Linked DNA regions of Homo sapiens: region 2 is linked to region 1. Evidence: fine-mapped expression QTL. A gene starts in region 1. The other region holds a variant in brackets. All regions are shown on one strand. Distances are from middle to middle.

What was found. PIP is the estimated chance that this variant, and not a neighbour inherited with it, causes the effect.
Region 2: its variant is fine-mapped to the expression of PLIN4 in whole blood (TOPMed, PIP above 0.99).

The regions. Positions count from the first base shown.
Region 1 is chr19:4,516,239-4,521,603 of GRCh38, reverse strand. It overlaps PLIN4 (perilipin 4), which reads left to right and starts at 3,118. Exons shown (of 8, transcript NM_001367868.2): 1 at 3,118-3,219; 2 at 3,315-3,382; 3 at 3,906-4,050; 4 at 4,926-4,987. The coding sequence starts at 3,332.
Region 2 is chr19:4,537,093-4,542,457 of GRCh38, reverse strand. It overlaps LRG1 (leucine rich alpha-2-glycoprotein 1), which reads left to right and starts at 2,422. Exons shown (of 2, transcript NM_052972.3): 1 at 2,422-2,476; 2 at 3,507-5,365. The coding sequence starts at 2,445. The coding sequence ends at 4,518. The variant C/T (reference allele first, on the strand shown) is at 3,035.

The DNA.
Region 1 (5,365 bases):
GTCCCCACTGCCCACAGACCAAACTCTTCACCTTCCAGCTTCCTCCTCCAGCCTGACCTGGATACTTTGCTCTCTTACCATTGAAGTGGGCACATTCCCACCTCCGGGCCTTTGCTGAGGCTGTGCGGCCACCTTGGAATACTCTTCCCACCCCCCATCCGTCCCTCGGACACATCTCATACATCCTCAAGGCCCAGCCTCAATGCCTCCTCCTCCAGGAAGGCTTCCAGGACTCCATCCCAGCCGGATACTTCCCTCCTCCGGTCCTCCACAGGCCACCTTCTCAAGGTTTCTTGCCCTTTCCACCTTGACTTTATAGCCACAGGCAGCCTTGCTCTCTCTTCCCACATGAGGCTGGGGGCTCCTGGCAGGGCCAGGCCTGTTGAGGATGATCAGAACAGCACATAGGGGTAGGCATTTTGGCAGAGGGAACAGCTTAGGGAAAGGCACAGCAGTAGGGAAATCAGTTTCACTGCAGCAGAGGTGAGGAAAAGAGAATGGGTTGAGCTAAGCCCTGGGATTTTTCTTTTCTTTTCTTTTCTTTGGGGGGGTGGGGAAGGAGTCTCACTCTGTCACCCAGGCTGGAGTGCAGTGGCGCGATCTTGGCTCACTGCAACCTCCACCTCCCAGGTTCAAGTGATTCTCCTGCCTCAGCCTCCCGAGTAGCTGGGATTACAGGCGTGCGCCACCACACACAGCTGATTTTTGTATTTTTAGTAGAGATAGGGTTTTGCCATGTTGGCCAGGCTGGTCTCGAACCCTGACCTCAGGTGATCCACCTGCCTCGGCCTCCCAAGATGCTGGGATTACAGGCATGAGTCACCGCGCCTGGCCCATTAATTCATTTAATTTTTATTTAAAGATATATTTTGGGCAGCCGGGCACAGTGGCTCATGCCTGTAACCCCAGCGCTTTGGGAGGCCGAGGCAGGTGGATCACGAGGTCAGGAGATCGAGACCATCCTGCCTAGCACAGTGAAACCCTGTCTCTACTAAAAATACAAAAAATTAGCTGGGTGTGGTGGCGAGTGCCTGTAGTCCCAGCTACTCGGGAGGCTGAGGCAGGAGAATGGCATGAACCCGGGAGGCAGAGCTTGCAGTGAGCCGAGATCGCACCACTGTACTCCAGCCTGGGCGACAGAGCGCGACCCCGCCTCAACAGAAATATATATATATAAAATATATTTTTTTTATTTATTTTTTTTTTTTTTTCTTTTGTTCTTTTGAGGCGGGGTGGCGCTCTGTCGCCCAGGCTGGTCTCAAACTCCTGTGCTCAAGCCAATCCTCCTGCCTCGGTCTCCCTAAATGCTGGGGTTACAGGGTGAGCCATGGCACCTGGCCTGAGGTATATATTTTTTAAAGGGAGAGGAGATCCAGGAATGCCTCTTTGAGGAAGTGATATTTGAGGAAAGACCTGGAAGGAGGTGAGGGATGTGGGAAAGGGTGCTGGAGGCAAAAGCAACAACCCACACGAAAGCCCTGAGGAAGGGTGTGCGGGGCTAAGCAGGCACAGTCACGTGTGTCTTTGAGGGACTCTGTCCTGGCATGTTATGGGAACAGTGAAAAGGCCCGTGTGGCTGGAGCAGAGTGAAGAGAAGAAGGAGAGGAAGGTGGGGAGCAGACGAGGCAGGTTATGCAGGGCCTACCGGGCTGCAGGAAGGGGACTTGGGCTTTGACCCTGGGCTCCCACCCCGGAGAAGGTGGGAGCCATGGAGGGTGCTGGGCAGAGGAGGGGTAGATCCTGGCTGGGATGTTTATGATCACTTTTTAATTTTTTCTCTCCACACACTGGGCTGTGGCTGCCCTTTGGGAAGGGGAGGGGCACCCAGAGCTCTCCCAGCCACCCTTGGGAAGCACTGGCTGGTAGAAGAGGTTGGGGGACACCCCCCCTTCTGTTCCCCCACTGTTTGGCAAACACAGTGTCGGCTCCAAGGAGACAGACGGCCTGGGAATCATCAGATCCTGTGGCTGTACCCTCCCTCCTCCCAGCCCAGTGCCCAGAGCCACCCATGGGGTCTGCCCTCTCACCCCCAATAACACAGGGCTAGGAACCCTGTCTCAGGGGCAGGTAGGAGGGGGACACAGCCCAGGGTGGGCGTTACGGCCATTCCTCTGCCCACCCACCCACAGACAGCCCAGCACATAGGCTGGGCTCAGCACGAAGGTCCTGGGTCTGGGTTTGAATCCCGTCCTCACCACTTCCTGGAACAGGAGGGTCTGGGTTTGAATCCCATCCTCACCACTTCTGGAACAGGACGCCTCCTCCAGGGAGCCTCCCTGGGTTGGCCCAAGCCCCCCAGGCTGGGTTTCCACTCCTAGGGTGCCCCCAGCTTGGCTGGTGCTCCATCTTGGTCTGCGTTTTGGCCCAAGTCCCTTCCGGAGAGTGATGGGCTCCCCTCCACACTGAGGACACCCCCTGCTCCTTGCCGAGACCCCGAGACCCCGCTTCTGCCTGGGTAACGCGAAGGCAGCATTTGTTCAGTGCATGACCTCATCTCACAGAGGCTCACAACCACTCTCTGTGTTGCTCCATTGAGCCAAACGTGTATTAAGCGCCAAATGTATGCCAGGCACTGTTCTGTGGGCGGAAGAGGGTGCCCTGTGGGAACCTGCAGGGAAGGTGTTCCAGGCAGAGGGCACAGCCCGTGCAGAGGCCCTAAGGCAGGACCGTGCCAGGTGCGCTGGAGGCATAGCGAGGAGGCCTGTGTGGCTGGGATGAAGCAAGCGAAGGAGGAAGCTGGGGGAGATGAGAGCAGAGAAGAAGCTGGATGTTACGGGACGTGGTGCGGAGTACGAGAGAGAAACCTGAAGCAAAAAGATGGTAACTGGCCAAGGCATCCTGGTGCAGCAGAGATTTGAACTACACCCACCTCGTGGATGGAACTGGAGGCTCAGGGGCCCGGGAGGGGAGCCCATCTGGCCTGTGAGCCACTCAGCCTGATGCAAGCTGTGGGCAGGAAACAGGGGAAAGGTGCTGGGCCTGGGCCCATGCTGGGCTGGGCAGGTAGCCATGTGACCGTCCAGGCCACCTCCCCCGGGCCCATTGGCCGCCTGCCGCTGCTGGCTGGGCCTGCGCCTGCCCCGGACCCTATAAGGCCAGGGAGCTGAGGGTAGAGCCAGCTGCCAGCCGGGCCGGTCCGTCCTCCAGGGGACCCCGCGCAGTCCAGGTGAGCGGGGCCGCGTCTGCTTCGGTGACACCAGGGTGAGGCCAGGCCTGCAGGTGGGTGTCGGGCTGCTCAGGCTTTCAGTGGGGAGTGGGTGTGGGATGGGAGGCTAGGGAACCCCCATTCACGCACCTTCTCTGCCCCCTTCCAGCTTCTCACGTTCTCACTATGTCTGCTCCAGACGAAGGGAGACGGGATCCCCCCAAACCGAAGGGCAAGGTAAAGAGGGGAAATGGGGCAGATTCTTGCTGGGGCCTGGAGATGCCCCAGAGCCGGGGAAGGTGACCTCCACAGTCCTGGGGTCTCGAATCTGGAGAGGTGCTTCCCTGGTGGGCTGGTGGGGGCGGTCTGGGAGCCATGATGCCAATCCCTTCCTTTCTGACCCAAGCTGGAGGCGGGGGACCCACGCAGACCTCGACACCTTCCCCAGCAAGTGACCTTGGGCCGGCCTCAGCTCCGCCCCTCTCTGAGCCTCAGTTTCCCCATCTGTGCAGTGGGGATCCTGGAAGGAAAAGGTCTTTGGAGATCGGGTAGACGATCTTTTCCTCTGTGCATGGGAGGCAGGCTGAGTCTGCCCATTGCCCAGGTGTGGAAATTGAGGCTGAGTGGCTGAAACACTTTCCTGAGGTCACCCAGGAGCAAGGGGCCGGGGCGGCATTGGGCTGATCAATCGATGCTTCCTCTGACCCGTTCCTGCCGAGGCTTGGCCTGCTCATCCTGCACACCCCCCGCCCCCATGCAGACCCTGGGCAGCTTCTTTGGGTCCCTGCCTGGCTTCAGCTCTGCCCGGAACCTGGTGGCCAACGCACATAGCTCGGCGAGAGCCCGGCCGGCCGCTGACCCCACAGGAGCGCCTGCTGCCGAGGCTGCCCAACCACAGGCTCAGGGTGAGTGGCTGGCCCAGCTGGGGGCGTGGGGGGACTCTACACATGGACCTGGGAGAAGGAGCTCCCCGGGCAGGGACTTCCAGCCATTTGGGGAGTCCTCCATATTTGTCTGTGTGCTCTCATCAGACACTAGGACATCTTGTGGTGGATGGGGAAACTGAGGCATAAATATGGGGGGTGAGTGGCCGAAGGTGGCTTTCAACCCAGCCTGTCTCCCTGCAATGCCCCCCCACTCAGTCCCTCGGCCGTTCCCCCACCCTGCACTCCGTTTCTGATGCACCATGGCCCAGGCTGGGTGCTCTGCCCATCTGAGCTCATCAGAGTGAGATCCAGACTCCCAGGGAGGAGCAACAGCTCCCCTGGGGTCACACAGCCCAGGGGCTCCCCAGCCTCCTGTGGCTCAGCTTGGGCGATCAGGGACGGTGACAGGGAACCCAGGGTTGGGGCAGCCGCCTGAGCTGGGCCTCCCTCTGGGCCCAGAGCCCCAGGCAGCTGACTTCTGCTCCACATGCCTTGGCCTGGCAATAGGCAGCAGGCAGCTGCGGTGGGGGCGGGGCGGGCTGGGCAAGGGGCTGTTCCCCCATGCCAGGCTATATGAACCCCGGGACTCAGGGTGGGTGTCCACCCAGCAGAGGAAGTTCCACAGAGCCCTACTTCAGGGAACAGCGGCCCTGGGCTTGGGGGGAGCCCCCAGCGGGGTTGGGGGGTGACCAGGTCTGGCTGGTAGCCGTGGATGTCACCTCCTGCTGTCCCTGGCGGGGTAGCTGAAACATTCCTGACCTTTTAGGCTGTGCCTGGCTATTGTGCAATGGGCAGCCGGGTAGATGGTTCTAACTGCATCCCTCACTCTCCCTGACCGGCCCCTGTCCCCACAGTGGCTGCCCACCCAGAGCAGACGGCCCCATGGACGGAGAAGGAGCTGCAACCTTCGGAAAAGGTGAGAGGATGTGCAGGGCAGGGTCTGATGTGGCAGGAGCCCTGGGGGTGCCCCCTCCTGCGACATTTCAGTTCCTGCTATCTGGGGGGCTGCTCCCTCCTGGGACATTTCAGTTCCTGCTATCTGGGGGGCTGCTGTGGGCCTGAGGGAAGGCAGACAGCCTGGGGATCCCAGGCGGAGCTTCCCCTCTGAGCCTCTATTTCCACATCTGTGAAATGGGTGCAGTGCTACCCCACTCTAATCACGTAAGGTTCCAGTCTACACAGGGCTGTGCCTGGCAAGATGAGACCAAAGCGACAGCAGCGTAAGCACTTTATTTCTTCTACTTTTATTTTTTGAGATGCAGTTTTGCTGTTTCACCCAGGCTGGAGTGCAGTG
Region 2 (5,365 bases), 21 kb before region 1:
ATCACTTGAGGTCAAGAGTTCGAGACTAGCCTGGCCAACATGGCAAAACCCCGTCTCTACTAAAAATACAAAAAATCAGCCAGGCTTGGTGGCGGGTTCCTGTAATTCCAGCTACTCGGCCGACTGAGGCAGAAGAATAGCTTGAATCTGAGAGTCAGAGGTTGCAGTGAGCTGAGATCACACCACTGCACTACAGCCTGGGTGACAGAGCGAGACGCTGTCTCAAAAAAAAAAAAAAAAAAAAGGCTGGGTCAAAACAAATCTGGGGAGCTGAGTGTGGAAACATGGAGACTTCGGGGTCCCCATCTTCATCTGCATAGGAGCCAGTTTCTTTTTCTTTTTCTTTTTCTTTTTTTGAGACAGAGTCTCACTTTGTCACCCAGGCTGGAGTATAGTGGCGCGATCTCGGCTCACTGCAACCTATGCCTCCTGGGTGCAAGCAATTCTCCTGTCTCAGCCTCTCCAGTAGCTGGGACTACAGGCACCCGCCACCACGCCCCGCTAATTTTTGTATTTTTAGTACAGACGGGGTTTCATCATATTGGTCAGGCTGGTCTCGAACTCCTGAACTCAGGTGATCCGCTTGCCTCGGCCTCCCAAAATGCTGGGATTACAGGCGTGAGCCACTGCGCCTGGCCAGCCTTATGAATTTTGTTTTAAGTGGGACAAGAAGCCATCAGAGAGTTTTAAGCAGGGATGTGATCTCATTTCATTTTAATGGATCGTTTTGTTACTGTGTCACTACATTTCACAAGCCTTCCTTCCTCTCAGTCCATGTTGATTAAGACCAACTAACGGCTGGGCTCCGGAGACTGGGCAGGGCACAAGACTGACGGAGTGCAGTGGCTCACGTCTATAACCCCAGCACTTTGAGAGACTGAGAAGATTCCTTGAGCCCAGGAGTTTGAGACCAGCCTAGGTAACATACAAAAGAATTTTTTAAATTAGCCAGGCATGGTAGCATGTGCCTGTATTCCCAGCTACTCGGGAGGCTGAGGCAGGAGAATCGTTTGAACCCAGGAGGTGGAGCTTGCAGTGAGCCGAAATTGCATCACTGCACTCCAGCATGGGTGGCAGAGGGAGACTCCATCTCAAAAAAAATTAGCCAGGCATGGTGGCACGTGCCCGTAGTCCCAGCTACTTGGGAGGCCTTGGACCCATGGTCAAAGCTACAGTTAGCTATGATTGCACCACACTGCTCCAAGCTGGGTAACAGAGCAAAATGCTGTCTCAAAAAAAAAAAAAAATGACGGGGCATGGTGGCTCACACCTGTAATTTTAGCAGTTTAGGAGGCCGAGGCCAGTGGATCACATGAGCTCAGGAGTTCAAGACCAGCCTGGGCCACATGGCAAAATCCTGTCTCTATTAAAAATATAAAAATTAACCAGGCACGCTGGTGCATGCCTGTAGTCCCAGCTACTCGGGAGGCTGAGGTGGGAGAATGGCGTGAACCCGGGAGGCGGAGCTTGCAGTGAGTGGAGATCACGCCACTGCACTCCAGCCTAGGCAACAGTGCAAGACTCTGTCTCAAAAAAAAAAAGAAAAAAAAAATAGTCATAGCTGCAGATAAAGGTGACACCATCATACCTAAATATTTAGAACTCAACAAGAATGCAAGCACTCTGCAGCCAAGTCCATGAGATGCAGCCAAAGCTGTTCTCAAAGGGAAATTTGTAGCCTCCAAACGCATTTAATAGGAAATGAGGAAGAATGGAAACAATAGCATGGATGTCAGATTCAGATGAAGAGAAAAAAGGGCAGAAGGAGCCCTTGGAGATTTGAGTTCAGCTTCATAGATGGGGAAACTGAGGCCAAGAAAAGTTAAGTCACTTGCCAAAGGTCACAAAGCAAAGGTGTTCATGACAGAGCTGGAATTCAGAACCAGGTTTGGTTCCTCCCAAGCCACTGTCTAAGGACCGTAGAGACGTTTGGCATTACTCACTATTGGACTGTATTTTTAAAATGACTTCTTTTAAAAAAAGCAATATCAACATACCATGAAATCAAGACGAGTTTTTTTGTTCTTTTCAGTGAGCTTCTGGGTTGCTCAAGTTTATGGTAAATCCCTCCTCTTGCTCAGAGAGCTGTCCCTGTCTCCAGGAATAGTGCCTTGCAAACCTTGACCCTTGAACTCCGGGTTGGGGGAAGTGAGGATGCAACTAGAGAGACTCTTGGATGCCCCCCAAAAATCAGGAAGCAAGGAAAGAAAAACCTGTGTTCTAGAAGCAGGGTCAAAAAGGGGTTGAACAGGAAACAATTTCCAGGAAGCAATTTTGTAATCCTGACCCCTCCCCTTCCCCTGCCTGGCTTAGGCTCAGCCCCTATCAGGAACTGGACGGGGGTGGGGACTTCCCCAGGGTTGGTTCCCCTGCCCCCAGTCCAGGCAGGTATAAGGCCACCTCCGCAGGCCAGGACAACCCAGAAGCAAAAGAGCAGAGCTACCATGTCCTCTTGGAGCAGACAGCGACCAAAAAGGTAGGTCCCCACACTACCTGTCCTAGGCAGGTTTGAACGCCAGACCATGCGGAGATACAGGACATTCCAGCTAACCCATAGAAGTCACAGGGAGCAGATACAGGCCTGGTGGCTGGCACAGATCAACCTTATCTGTGACAGAAAGACTGGCGCGTGCACACACACACACACCCCTACAGAAGCCCAGGTGGGCATGGGCAGCAGGGAGCCGGGGGAGGCTTCTTGTTAGAGGCCTGGGGCCACAGTGACCAAGGCTGTCGAGATCATGTCTGATGGCTGCCGGGCCAGGGAAGCCCTGGAGGAGGAGGGGAAGCCCCAGGCTTCCAAGGGTTGTGGTGCTAAGTGTAAACCACCGCTTCCCAAGGCCAAATGCCCACCCTCAGACCTGGCCAAAGCAGGACACACTTTTCATGTTCAGAGGCTGCAGTGAGCTGTGATCATGCCAGTTCCCTCCAGCCTGGGCAACTGAGCAAGACTCTGTCTCAAAAACATGAACCTGAACGTCTGTCTTCCTCCAAGCACCCAATTGGTCAAGAGTGGACAAAAAGACCAGGATCC[C/T]AGAGCAGAGAAGTCTTCATGGAAAAGAGGGCATTGGAGCTGGGGCTTTGAAGGATGAATAGGAGTTCACATCAAAACACAGAGCCAGGGAGACAAGGACTGACCCAGAAAATAAGCCAGATCAGAAGAAACTAGCAAGTTGGACTGTGAATAATTAACAGCTCATGGGGGCTAGGCTGGTGATGGGGAAGTGTATTCATATTATGCGGGAGTTACACTCAGAAACTCAACTTTCCTAGAATTATAATTCTCCCTGGAACAGGGGCCACTTCTGGCAGCTGTCGGGGGTGAGGGTAGAAGCTGGAAGAGGAGGAGGAAGCAACTGCCCTAGTACAGGTGAGAGATGAGGTAGCATAGTCCAGGCTGGTAGCCGCAGAGATGGGAAGAAGTGGGCGGATTTGCTGGTGTATTTTCACCTAGCTGAGTGTATTTTCACTGTGGTTTAGTAAGCATCTTCTGTTACTGCCTGCAGCCCAGGGGGCATTCAACCCCATGTTTCTAGAACTCTGTTCCTGCTGCTGCTGTTGGCAGCCTCAGCCTGGGGGGTCACCCTGAGCCCCAAAGACTGCCAGGTGTTCCGCTCAGACCATGGCAGCTCCATCTCCTGTCAACCACCTGCCGAAATCCCCGGCTACCTGCCAGCCGACACCGTGCACCTGGCCGTGGAATTCTTCAACCTGACCCACCTGCCAGCCAACCTCCTCCAGGGCGCCTCTAAGCTCCAAGAATTGCACCTCTCCAGCAATGGGCTGGAAAGCCTCTCGCCCGAATTCCTGCGGCCAGTGCCGCAGCTGAGGGTGCTGGATCTAACCCGAAACGCCCTGACCGGGCTGCCCCCGGGCCTCTTCCAGGCCTCAGCCACCCTGGACACCCTGGTATTGAAAGAAAACCAGCTGGAGGTCCTGGAGGTCTCGTGGCTACACGGCCTGAAAGCTCTGGGGCATCTGGACCTGTCTGGGAACCGCCTCCGGAAACTGCCCCCCGGGCTGCTGGCCAACTTCACCCTCCTGCGCACCCTTGACCTTGGGGAGAACCAGTTGGAGACCTTGCCACCTGACCTCCTGAGGGGTCCGCTGCAATTAGAACGGCTACATCTAGAAGGCAACAAATTGCAAGTACTGGGAAAAGATCTCCTCTTGCCGCAGCCGGACCTGCGCTACCTCTTCCTGAACGGCAACAAGCTGGCCAGGGTGGCAGCCGGTGCCTTCCAGGGCCTGCGGCAGCTGGACATGCTGGACCTCTCCAATAACTCACTGGCCAGCGTGCCCGAGGGGCTCTGGGCATCCCTAGGGCAGCCAAACTGGGACATGCGGGATGGCTTCGACATCTCCGGCAACCCCTGGATCTGTGACCAGAACCTGAGCGACCTCTATCGTTGGCTTCAGGCCCAAAAAGACAAGATGTTTTCCCAGAATGACACGCGCTGTGCTGGGCCTGAAGCCGTGAAGGGCCAGACGCTCCTGGCAGTGGCCAAGTCCCAGTGAGACCAGGGGCTTGGGTTGAGGGTGGGGGGTCTGGTAGAACACTGCAACCCGCTTAACAAATAATCCTGCCTTTGGCCGGGTGCGGGGGCTCACGCCTGTAATCCCAGCACTTTGGGAGGCCCAGGTGGGCGGATCACGAGGTCAGGAGATCGAGACCATCTTGGCTAACATGGTGAAACCCTGTCTCTACTAAAAATATAAAAAATTAGCCAGGCGTGGTGGTGGGCACCTGTAGTCCCAGCAACTCGGGAGGCTGAGGCAGGAGAATGGCGTGAACTTGGGAGGCGGAGCTTGCGGTGAGCCAAGATCGTGCCACTGCACTCTAGCCTGGGCGACAGAGCAAGACTGTCTCAAAAAAATTAAAATTAAAATTAAAAACAAATAATCCTGCCTTTTACAGGTGAAACTCGGGGCTGTCCATAGCGGCTGGGACCCCGTTTCATCCATCCATGCTTCCTAGAACACACGATGGGCTTTCCTTACCCATGCCCAAGGTGTGCCCTCCGTCTGGAATGCCGTTCCCTGTTTCCCAGATCTCTTGAACTCTGGGTTCTCCCAGCCCCTTGTCCTTCCTTCCAGCTGAGCCCTGGCCACACTGGGGCTGCCTTTCTCTGACTCTGTCTTCCCCAAGTCAGGGGGCTCTCTGAGTGCAGGGTCTGATGCTGAGTCCCACTTAGCTTGGGGTCAGAACCAAGGGGTTTAATAAATAACCCTTGAAAACTGGATCGGATGAATTGGCTTTCATTGTGTTCCTAGCATCTTCTCAAATCAACTTCCCAGGACTCCAGGGTGAAGGAGGAAAAGAGGCATGGCCCAGGCCCTGGGGTGTGGGATATGGTCTCCCTAG